Linked DNA regions of Homo sapiens. The protein of the gene in region 2 interacts with the protein of the main gene of each other region in a pairwise test. Each region holds a gene or a part of one and is shown on either strand. Other genes may lie near its edges.

Region 1 (3,500 bases), on a different chromosome or scaffold from region 2:
ACGTGTGCACAGGTTCATGGACACACACACACACACACACTCATAAAAACATTACCCTTACAGTATACAATGCTCTGATATTTAAAAATTCTATTCATTTAAAAAAAGAACTGCCAGCTGCAACTGACTACATTATTTTCACAAGTTTGGAAAAACACAGCTTTCTAGTTCAGTGTGTTACTGGTCTGTGACAAGGAGCTTGCGCCAGAAGGTAAGTCCATGCACTGCTTCACTCATTAAGGTCTTGCTAGAAAACAGAAATGAGTGGAAATAGACTGCATGCTCAGTGATATAGCTAATTCACATTCTGCCTAAGTCCCTTAGCTCACCGGGGGCCAGACAAGAGCTGCTCCCCAACAGGCACTAGCCCCCAGGACATTCTTTGAAAGCGCAGCTGTATCTTGCTAATCTCATAATTTTGATACTTACTTCCCTGCTCAAAAACTTTCAGTGATTCCTCCGTCATTTAAAGTCTAAATCTACTTGCCTGATGGTAAAGTTCTCTAATGACATGACCCTGACCTACTTAATTCCTGATTATTTCCCCAACATCAAACCTATACTGCACTCAAATTATTATTTTTTGAGATGGAGTCTCGTTCTGTTGCCCAGGCTGGAGTGCGGTGGCGCAATCTCGGCTTGCTGCAGCCTCTGCTCCCCCAGTTCAGGCGATTCTCCTGTCTCAGTCTCCTGAGTAGCTGGGACTACAGGCATGCGCCACCACGCCCAGCTAATTTTTGTATTTTTTGTAGAGACGGTTTTGCCATGTTGGGCAGGCTGGTTTCAAACTCCTGACCTCAAGTGATCCACCCGCTTTGGTCTCTCAAAAGTGCTGGGATTACAGGTATGAGCCACCGCACCTGGCCACACTCAAAATTATTCCTCACTGGTTTTCAAATTCACATCCAGTCCCCTGTGCCTTTGCTCTGTTTGGAGCTGCTCCTACTACTGCCTGTTGAAATTTGCAGCTCGAATGCCACCCTCCCTGCCCTGAGAGACTCAGATAGGCATGGCCAATGAGACATCAGTTGAGCACAAGTGGTCCAAACTTGAATTCACTGACTGCCCTTTCTTCCTGCTGGTCACCTCCTCTGAAGGGCTTGCATCTCATTCATCTCTGTCCTTGGTCTCCTCTAGTTCCTGACACAGCAGGTGTCAGAAGACTTGTCAAAACACATCTGGAAGGCAAGGCGGGGCAGGAAGTTCACCCCCCACAAGTGAACCCTGGCACCTTGTCCTGTGCTCAGCTCCCCAGGCTCCCTTCTACCCCACTCCTTCCAGGCCCCTGTGCCCACACACACCCTCAGTGCCAACTGCCCGCAGTGGGTGCACATTGTGTTTGTAGACGAACTTCTCCTCTAGCACCATCTGGATGGCAACGATGATCTGGGCCATGATGATCAACAGGTCCCCTGTGGGGAAGGAGGGACCCAGATGAGAACAGGGCTGCACTGGGGCTGGGGGCCAGGAGAGCATGGCCACAGCGACCAAACATGCCAGCCCCTGACCTCTGCAGGGCCCCCTATAGTTCATAGGCACAGTCACCACTGCCTGTCCCTGATTCCCTGGTTCCTGAGGGGCATGCCAGCAGTGCCAGGCTAAGGCCCCAGAGGCCTGCCTGTGTCTAAGAGCTGCCCCACGGGGTATGACGCAGGTCTTTCAAGAAGCAACAGGCTTTGAGATAGACATTTCTTGGTTGATCCTGACCCTAAGTGACCCAGGACAGTCATTTCATTGTAAAATGGGCTGTGATGCATCCGTTTGGGGCCTGTGGGAGTCACTGTGATGATGAACACACAGTGCTCAGCACCAGGCTGGGCACTTGGTAAGCACCTGTTCCTTTCCACTCCCAAATCCAGTAGTTTGCATGTCTGCATCTGTATCAAAGGACAAGCCAGCCCCTCGCCCTGCCCGGCCTGCCACTCATCCTTGGTGGAGCCACATCCCTTTGCAGTCTTCCCTACATTCTATCCATCACCTCCAGAGCTACCCACCTCACCCAGGGCTTGGTATATGGCACATGGCAGAGCTTGTATGAGTCTGTGCTGGGCTCCCAAGGAGGACAGGGCAGGATAGGGCAGCCCCGTGTCCCTGCCCCTGGCCGCACCTGTGATCACTTCGCTGAGCTTGTGCTGACTGTCGTGCTTGCTCAGGAGGTCAGCCAGGCCCACGACCACCAGCCCCGCGATGGTGGCTAGGATGCCCAGCCACTGGCTCAGCACCAGCCTCCGGCCCAGGAAGGCCACCGAGAACAGGCCAGTGAATATGATCACTGCACCCCGCAGCATCTGGAAGCTGGAGGCACTGGTCATGTTCAGAGCTAGGAAAGGAGAAACAAATTACAGTTAGCTTCCCAAGGCGAAGGCCATCTGTCACTAAGGGGTCTTTGGTGATAGACATGCCAAGCTCATAGTAAGCGCTCGATCAGTCCTGCCTGTGTGCCTGTGCGTGTGAAGTCTGGGGGAATGGTGGGATGAAGTGGAGGTGGGTGGGATAGGGCTGTTTCACCAGTAGCCCCTTCAGCCACAGCTTCCCCTGAGCCCTTCTCAGCCTGGCCTGGTTACTCACCCACATACATGAGGCTGGTCCCTGTCATGTCACAGAGCGCTGGGGGCAGGAAAAGAAGAGGGTTGAAGGGCTGCTGGGGGTCTACGCTGGAGTCTGATTGCCCTGCAGCTCTGCATCGGAGGAGGTAGAAGGCAGCCAGGCAGGAGAATTCTCCCAGGAACATGCCCACTGCCTGCAGGGATGAAAACCCGAGGACTTCAGAGCTGGAAGGGATCTCGGGGATCATCTTTAACTATTTTTTTTAATGCAAACTTTTGTCAAACAAGAGCTTACCCAGAACCCCAATATGTAAAATAGACAAATGCAGAGCTGCCATGGAGGCTAGAGACAGCCTCCTAGGTCTGCCCCAAAGCCCCCATACATCCTGATGAACCCTAAGGCTGTGCAGAGCCCTGTCTGAAAACCATCCATCTAGGCCAACCCCTAGTCAAATCGCAGGTGGAGAAGCCTAGACCCAAGAGAGGCTCAAAGACTTATGTAAGGCCACAAAGCAAGTTGCTGGTAGAGCTGGGGCTGACATTTGAGTCTCCTGATTCTCAGTTCAACGAACAGTGTCTTCCATTTATGGTGTCTGCCCTGTCCCAATTGGGGTCTGGGCTCCCAGTGGATAGAGAGCTGACTTTTGTCACTAGGGCTGATGTTTTCCACGTGTCCTGACTTGGATGTGGTGAGGACATGACCACTTGCCAGGACTTTCGCAGAGGATGGTGCTCTTTGCCCTATTCTAAACCTTGGATTCTGCTCTGGGGAGGGAAAGAGAGAAGTGGATGGCTCTTCTGGGAGCAGGAGACACCTCCACTCCTAAGTCAGGAAACAGCCTGGCCTCATGGCCGGGGGTGGCGCCTGGTCTGAGGCCCGGGAGACAGGAGGTAGGAGGGACAGGGCCAGATACCTGGAGGAAGGGATGCTGGAAGCTGTGCTCCTTGCTCCCT
Region 2 (3,500 bases):
GTATTACCTTTCAGCTGGTGGCATCTACATATAAACTATGTATATATCAAATTATGTATATGTCATAAAATATTCTGAATCCGACTTCTTTCCTCCTCCACTGCTGTCATTGAGTGCAAACCAGTGTCATCTTCATGCCCCTGACTAACTTGCTGATCTGCCTCCCACAAACAGCAGCACTGATGATCCTCTAAACGTACACCACATCACTACTCTCTTTGAAACCCTCCAGTGGCTTCTCCTCTCACTCAAAATTGTGATCCAGGAAAAGGGGCTCGCTTCCTGATGCACTGTGACACCAGGTTTTTGAGACAAGAAAGGCTTTATATTGCAAATTGACTCCCAAGGAGACAGGAGTCGACCTCAAATCTGCCTCCCTGTGCTGACTTCAAGGCAGTGTTTTTATTAGAAAAGGTTCAGAGGGTGGATTCTGAGATCAGTAGGTGAGCGATGGAAGGAAAGGGGACATCTGGAAGGTCCTTGGGCATGCACAGTTATCTCCTCATGCTAACTCATAGGGCTCATGTGCCAATTCAGGGGAATGAGTATGAAACGTGATGGAGAGTCAGCTTGCGACACCAGGAAGCTTGTTCTCTGCAGACTCTACTTGGCCATATTGGTTCCAACCAATTTCAGCCAGTTCTTTTATCCCATAAGGGGAGGAAGTTTCAGTATTTTACCAAGTAGTTTCTTATCTGCTACCCTGCAAACTCAATAATTTCTTTCTTTTTTTTTTTTTGAGACAGTCTCCTCTGATGCCCAGGCTTAAGTGCACTGATGTGATCTCAACTCACTGCAGCCTCTGCCGTCCTGGGTTCAAGTGATCCTCCTGCCTCAGCCTCTGGGATTACAGGGACACGCCACCACACTGGCTAATTTTTGTATTTTTAGTAGAGACGGGGTTTTGCCATGTTGGCCAGGCTGGTCTCCAACTCCTGCCCTCAAGTGATCCACCCACCTTGGCCTTTCAAATGCTGGGATTACAGGTGTAAGCCACGCCCAGTCCAAACTCAAGAATTTGTTAGTCATTGGTTTCTTTAACTCTTTGAGGATGGTTTCAAATTCACAGCCCTTACTGTGGCCTATGAGGCTGTATATCTGTGCTAATACAGTAGCCACTAGCTACATGTAACTATTTACAGTTTAATTCATAAATTTAAAATTCAGTTCCTCACGTTCCAAGTTCGCAGGAGCCCCATATGCAAAAAGCCAGCATAACAAGAGTCATGCTCACAGGAGCTCTGCCAGACTGCTGCTTTGCAGAGCCTAACCTGCAGCCACACTGGCTTCCCTGTGTTGTTAGACATTAAGCTCATCCTGTCTCAGTCTTTCCACTAGCTTCTCTGCCGAAATTCATTTTCTTAGAGACTCCAATGGTTTGCCTCCTTTACTGTTTTCTTAAATGTTTCTTCATGAGAAAGGCCCTCCTAAACAATCCTTTCTTCCTTTTTTTTTTTTTTTTCCTTGAAACAGGGTCTCTCTTGCTCTGTCACCCAGGCTGGAATGCAGTGGCGTGATCTTGGCTCACTGCAACCTCTGCCTCCCAGGCTCAAGCCATTCTCCAACCTCACCCTCCCGAGTAGCTGGGATTACAGGCATGCACCACCACACCCGGCTAATTTTTGTATTTTTTTGTAGAGGTGGGGTTTCGCCATGTTGCCCAGGCTGGTCTTGAACTCCTGAGCTCAAGCAGTTCATGCTTCAGCTTCCCCAAAGTGCAATGGCGTGATCTCAGCTCACTGCAACCTCCGCCTCCTGGGTTCAAGTGATTCTCCTGCCTCAGCCTCGCAAGCAGCTGGATTACGAACGTGTGCCATTGTGCCCGGCTAAGTTTTGTATTTTTAGTAAAGATGGGGTTTCACCATGTTGGCCAGGCTGGTCTCAAACTCCTGACCTCAGGTGATCCACCCACTCCACCCACCTCAGCCTCCCAAAGTGCTGGGATTACAGGCATGAGCCACTGTGCCCGGCCCTCTTTTTTTTTGAGGCAGAGTTTTACTCTTGTCACCCAGGCTGGAGTTCAGTGGTGCAATCTCAGCTCACTGCAACCTCTGCCTGCTGGGTTCAAGCGATTCTCCTGCCTCAGCCTCCTGAGTAGCTGGGATTACAGGTGCCCGCCACCACACCTGGCTAATTTTTGTATTTTTAGTAGAGATGGGGTTTCACCATGTTGGCCAGGCTGGTCTCAAACTCTTGACCTCAGGTGATCTGCCCGCCTCAACCTCCCAAAGTAGTGGGATTACAGGTGTGAGCCACCACACCCAGCCGAAAGTAAGCTTCTGAAAGGAATGATGAAGTGTCATTTACTTTTATATCCCCAGCTCATAAGATAGTGTCATGCACATAGAGAAGCTCTCAGTAAATATTTGCTAAGGGATTTTTTGGAATGACCTGAGGTATCATCTTTTCAGGAGGTTAGAAATACAGGATTTTAGTGACATGGTTAACTGCATAGTACTTTTTATTTTAACTTTTCTTTTTGAGATGGAGTCTTGCTCTTGTCGCCCAGGCTGGAGTGCAGTGGCGTGATCTCAGGTCACTGCAACCTCCGTCTCCTGGGTTCAAGCAATTCTCTTGTCTCAGCCTCCTGAGTAACTGGGATTACAGGTGCCCGCCACCACGCCTGGCTACTTTTTGTACTTTTAGTAGAGTTGGGGTTTTGCCATGTTGGCTAGGCTGGTCTCACACTCCTGACCTTAGGTGATCTGCCCACCACAGCCTCCCAAAGTGCTGGGATTACAGGCGTGAGCCACTGTGCTCAGCCATTATTTTAACTTTTTATCGAAGTATGACGTACATGAGAAAAGTGCACAAATCATAAATATACAGCTTGGTGAATTTTCATGCAGTAAACCCTCTGTGAAACCAGCTTTCAGATCAAGACATAGAGCATTGTCAGCATTCCAGAGGACCCCATAATGCGTCCTAGTCAGTATTCTATTGGTGGAATTCTGTGGTATATACTTACAGCATCTAGCTTCCTTTCTTAACATTCCCTTTGCGGGGTTCACCCATGTTGTTGGAAGTAGCCATAGTTCATTCGTTCTCATTTCTCTGTGGTGTTAAGTTGTATACATAAGCCATAATTTTTCCATGGTACTTTTGATGCTACATTTGATTATTTCCAGTTTGAGACTATCATGAATAGTGCTGCTAAGATTATTTTTAATTCTTATACTAGAATCACTGCTTTCTTTAGTTAACATTATATACCCAAAGTTTTGCAGTTAGAGTTGGTAACATTTTTACATTGTGCCACATGGCTTTTTGTTCTCTTTCTAATCAGTGTAAGTTGAAAAATTATTTAACGTATAATATAAATTTTTGGCAGCTGGAAGTAAAGAGTGAATTTTTTTTTTTTTTTTTTTTTGAGACGGAGTCTCGCCCTGTTGCGCAGGCTGGACCGCAGTGGCATGATCTCGGCTCACTGCAAGCTCCACCTCCTGGGTTCACGCCACTCTCCTGCCTCAGCCTCCCGAGTAGCTGGGACTACAGGCGCC
Region 3 (3,500 bases), on a different chromosome or scaffold from region 2:
ATGAAGAATGTTCCTCCTTTTCTCATCTAATTTAATAAACACTTTTGAATAAAGCTCAGACCCACCTAGAAAAACCCACAATCTATTCAGGTGAGATATGTGTAAAAAAAATTACAATAAAATGTGATACATAAAACTAATAAAACTTAGAGACCATTTGCCTAAAGGAATCATGAAAGGGTCACTGAGACACAGTTTTAAATAACATTGGACAATCACCAGTTGTAGAAAAGGGCATTCCAGGCAAAAGGGTGTGTAACTGTATGGAAGCAATAATAAGTACAACATTTTCAGGAAATAAGGAGAATTTGGTGTGACTAGGCCTAGATGCTTGTGGGGAGGCCAGGCTATAAAAAGATGTAAAGTCTAGGCTGTAGAGAGCTATGGAAGTCATGTAAAAGAGTTTGCAGTTTATTCTGCGGATGATGAAAAAATATTAGACATTGTAAGCAGGTGAGATTGTTAGAATATTTGCATTTATAATCAAAGATGTAGTAATATCATGGGTGAATGAGATGGGGAGAGAATAAAGGCAAGAAAACGTATTCAGAAACTACTTCAGAAGCCCAGGTGAGAGATAACATGGCCTTCAACTACAGGGTAGCAGAGGAAATGGGAGGAATAGACAGGTGAAAGGCAACTCAGAGGTTGGCTTGGGTGACTGAGTTGAAATGAGGTCAGAACAAGGGACAGGGAGTTTCTAGCGTGGGTATTTGGGATGTACATGGTTGCTACGTATTTCTGTCAACAAGGTGAGCTGAAAGTACCTGTAGAATATCTCCAAGGAGAACATACAAAGGATAACTAGAAACATGAGCCTGAATGTCAGGGTTGGGTGGAGCTAAGGGAATGATGGTGAGATTCATCAGCAAGCTAATGAAGACAGTGGCAGTGGAGGCGAATACAGACAGTGAAATTCCCTAGGGAGAGCTGTGATGTGGCTCAAAAGAGGGCGCAAAACAGTGCTCCAGGGAGCACAAACATTTAATGGATAAGAACAAGGTAATGAAGAAGCAAAAGGAACAGGGTTCAGAAAACCAGAAAAGCCAGTGCCCTGAATGTCTAGGGAGGGAGATTTCTAAAAGCAAATAGTCAATAACATCAGCAACTTTTCCTCTGGTGACAGTGTACTTATTTCTTTTAGTGAAGTAAACTCTGATTCCCCATCCTGGTGTACATATTTTTTTTTTTGAGACAGGGTCTCACTCTGTCACCCAGGCTAGAGTGCAGTGGTGCGATCATAGCTCACTGCAGCCTCAAACTCCTGGGCTCAAGCAATTCTTCCACTTCAGCCTCCCAAGTAGTTAGGACTACAGGTGCACACCACCACACATGACTAATTTTGTTTTATTTTTATTCTTGTTTTTTTGTAGAGATGGGGTCTTGCTATGTTTCCCAGGCTGGTCTCAAACCTCTAGCCTCAAGTGATCCTCCTGCCTTGGCCTGCCAAAATGCTGGGATTGCAAGCGTGCGCCACCGCACCTGGCCCTGACATATATACTTTAAGCAGTCAAAGTATTTGGTCCTTTTTCTTTCTCTTTCTCTGCCCCCTGAAACTCTTAAAAGGAAGTTAGGGATAGTTGTCTGGAACATCCCAGTTCCTTATCATAATGTTAAATGTGCACCAGAGCTGGGGGACATTTAAGAGCCAGACACCATGATCTAAAAGATGCTAAATAAAGGTATCTGCTGAAGGTAGGAAAGCACTGGCTTTGGTCTCATTAGTTACCTGTAAACCCGACTTGACAGGTGCACTCATAGGTATCCCGGCTGAGCATATGGCATGTGCCGCCATTCAGGCAAGGTCGAGACACAAAGCATGGATGAGATGTCGAGTACTGGCAGTCCTCTCCTGTAAACCCTGAGGCACATCGGCACGTGGCTTTCCCCAGCATGGCCTGGGCCACACAAGTCCCACCATTCTGGCAGCGGTTCTTCTCACAGGGGTCTCGATGTTGACAATATTCCCCCAAGAAGCCTTCTGGACATCTGTATGGAAAAGAGAAGAGTCCATGAAAACACCTGACTTCTTGTAAGTCCAAAAAATTACAGTAAAACAATACAGTCCAATCAAGAAAGCACGAGATTGTGAATCAACAGACCTACAAGGACCACCTATAAAACTGCTTCCCTTTAGAAGAAAGAGTCCTTAGAGAACTTAACCACATACTCCCATGTCCTTTTGAGTCCTGGCAGGTGACAGAGTATCAGGTGTATGGTCTAGCAGGGTCTGCCATGGCCAGTCAACATGACCCTTATTCAAACGCAAAATGCACCCCAGCTTTTTTTCATGTGTGTACAGGTTGGGATGGTGTAACAGCACCTTTTTTAGAGCACTGTTCGTACTTGTCTGCTTAAATTCATTAACTTTCTCATTTTGACTAAGCCATTTGATAGGATTAAGATGTCCACAATATAATGCATGAACTTGACCCTATTATCCCCTCCAATTTAAAATATGTAAGATATCATGTGCTTTTCCTCAATTAAGCATTGAGAAATAGTAAGTGCTTCTTTCTCTTATTTCCACTGAAACATCAATTGGATGATACCTAGTTTTCTGGGTTATGTTCAGGTGGCTGACATTACAACGGAAAAAGGGAAAGGAGGTACAGGAATGGGGAAGAGTTCAAAGGGATATTTAAAAATCTGTTAATATTTAAGTAGGCATTTTTAACCAAATAAAAAGACACAAAATATAATTAAAATAACATAAAATATCTAAGATACCATATAAACACCAAAGTCAAGGAAGGAATCAATTGAAGAATAACATTCTATGATATTTTCCACATTGAGGCACTGAGGAACCTTTTTACATGCCACCCCTTGATTCATAAGATGTACAACCATTTCAAACTGTGTGTATTATTTATGACAATTTTCTCTGAACAATATCAAAAAGGCATGGTAAGTCTCCATTTTCATAATGAAGTTGTTTAAATGGAATCTCTGAGAAGCATTTAAATTAAGAAACACAAACACTTTGATTCTAACTATAAATGCTGCTATATATTTGGCTGGTGCCCCAAATATGTGATTCAACTTATTCCTCGTTTTAGTTTTCAGGGACTAGAAAACTGAATCTAGTAGGCTGTTCCACCATTACCTCAAAGATTACACATTTAAACCAAACTCTAAATCCCCCTCTCAAAAACCAGCTTTTCTGTGCCCAAGCCTTGTTGTCCTGATTTTCCTAATCATTGTGACCTGAAACATTGGGGTCATGAGTGCTTTTGTCTTTGACAGTCATATCCAAGACCTTTCATTAACCATTGGTTGGCAAGGCTAGCTAGCAGGGGTCACAGTTACTGAGAAAAGAGGGAAGGCCAGATACTAGGGAACTAAGACAGAAAATGCCCAGAAGAATTGTGTAGTAGCTAAAATGGCTAAAGGAGAAAACAGGGTGGTGAATAGCTATAGTGGTAGTGAGGTAACTGGCCACAGCCTCTTCACCCCTCCCAGAGCTGCATAAGATAAGCATGGCAGAGCAAGGAGCG

What was found. The genes of interacting proteins can lie anywhere in the genome.
Region 1: the proteins of PSMG2 (region 2) and SLC35F6 interact in a two-hybrid assay, tested with the Homo sapiens proteins (one large-scale study listed by BioGRID and IntAct).
Region 3: the proteins of PSMG2 (region 2) and NOTCH2NLA interact in binary tests that used the Homo sapiens proteins (3 or more experiments, as listed by UniProt).

Annotation. Positions count from the first base shown.
Region 1 is NC_000002.12:26,774,284-26,777,783, reverse strand, and holds part of SLC35F6 (solute carrier family 35 member F6 precursor), read right to left. Parts: coding exon 3,461-3,500; intron 2,741-3,460; coding exon 2,569-2,740; intron 2,321-2,568; coding exon 2,108-2,320; intron 1,413-2,107; coding exon 1,302-1,412; intron 1-1,301. UniProt on the Homo sapiens protein: Involved in the maintenance of mitochondrial membrane potential in pancreatic ductal adenocarcinoma (PDAC) cells. Promotes pancreatic ductal adenocarcinoma (PDAC) cell growth. May play a role as a nucleotide-sugar transporter.
Region 2 is NC_000018.10:12,713,042-12,716,541, forward strand, and holds part of PSMG2 (proteasome assembly chaperone 2), read left to right. Parts: intron 1-3,500. UniProt on the Homo sapiens protein: Chaperone protein which promotes assembly of the 20S proteasome as part of a heterodimer with PSMG1.
Region 3 is NC_000001.11:146,163,022-146,166,521, forward strand, and holds part of NOTCH2NLA (notch homolog 2 N-terminal-like protein A), read right to left. Parts: intron 1,990-3,500; coding exon 1,730-1,989; intron 1-1,729.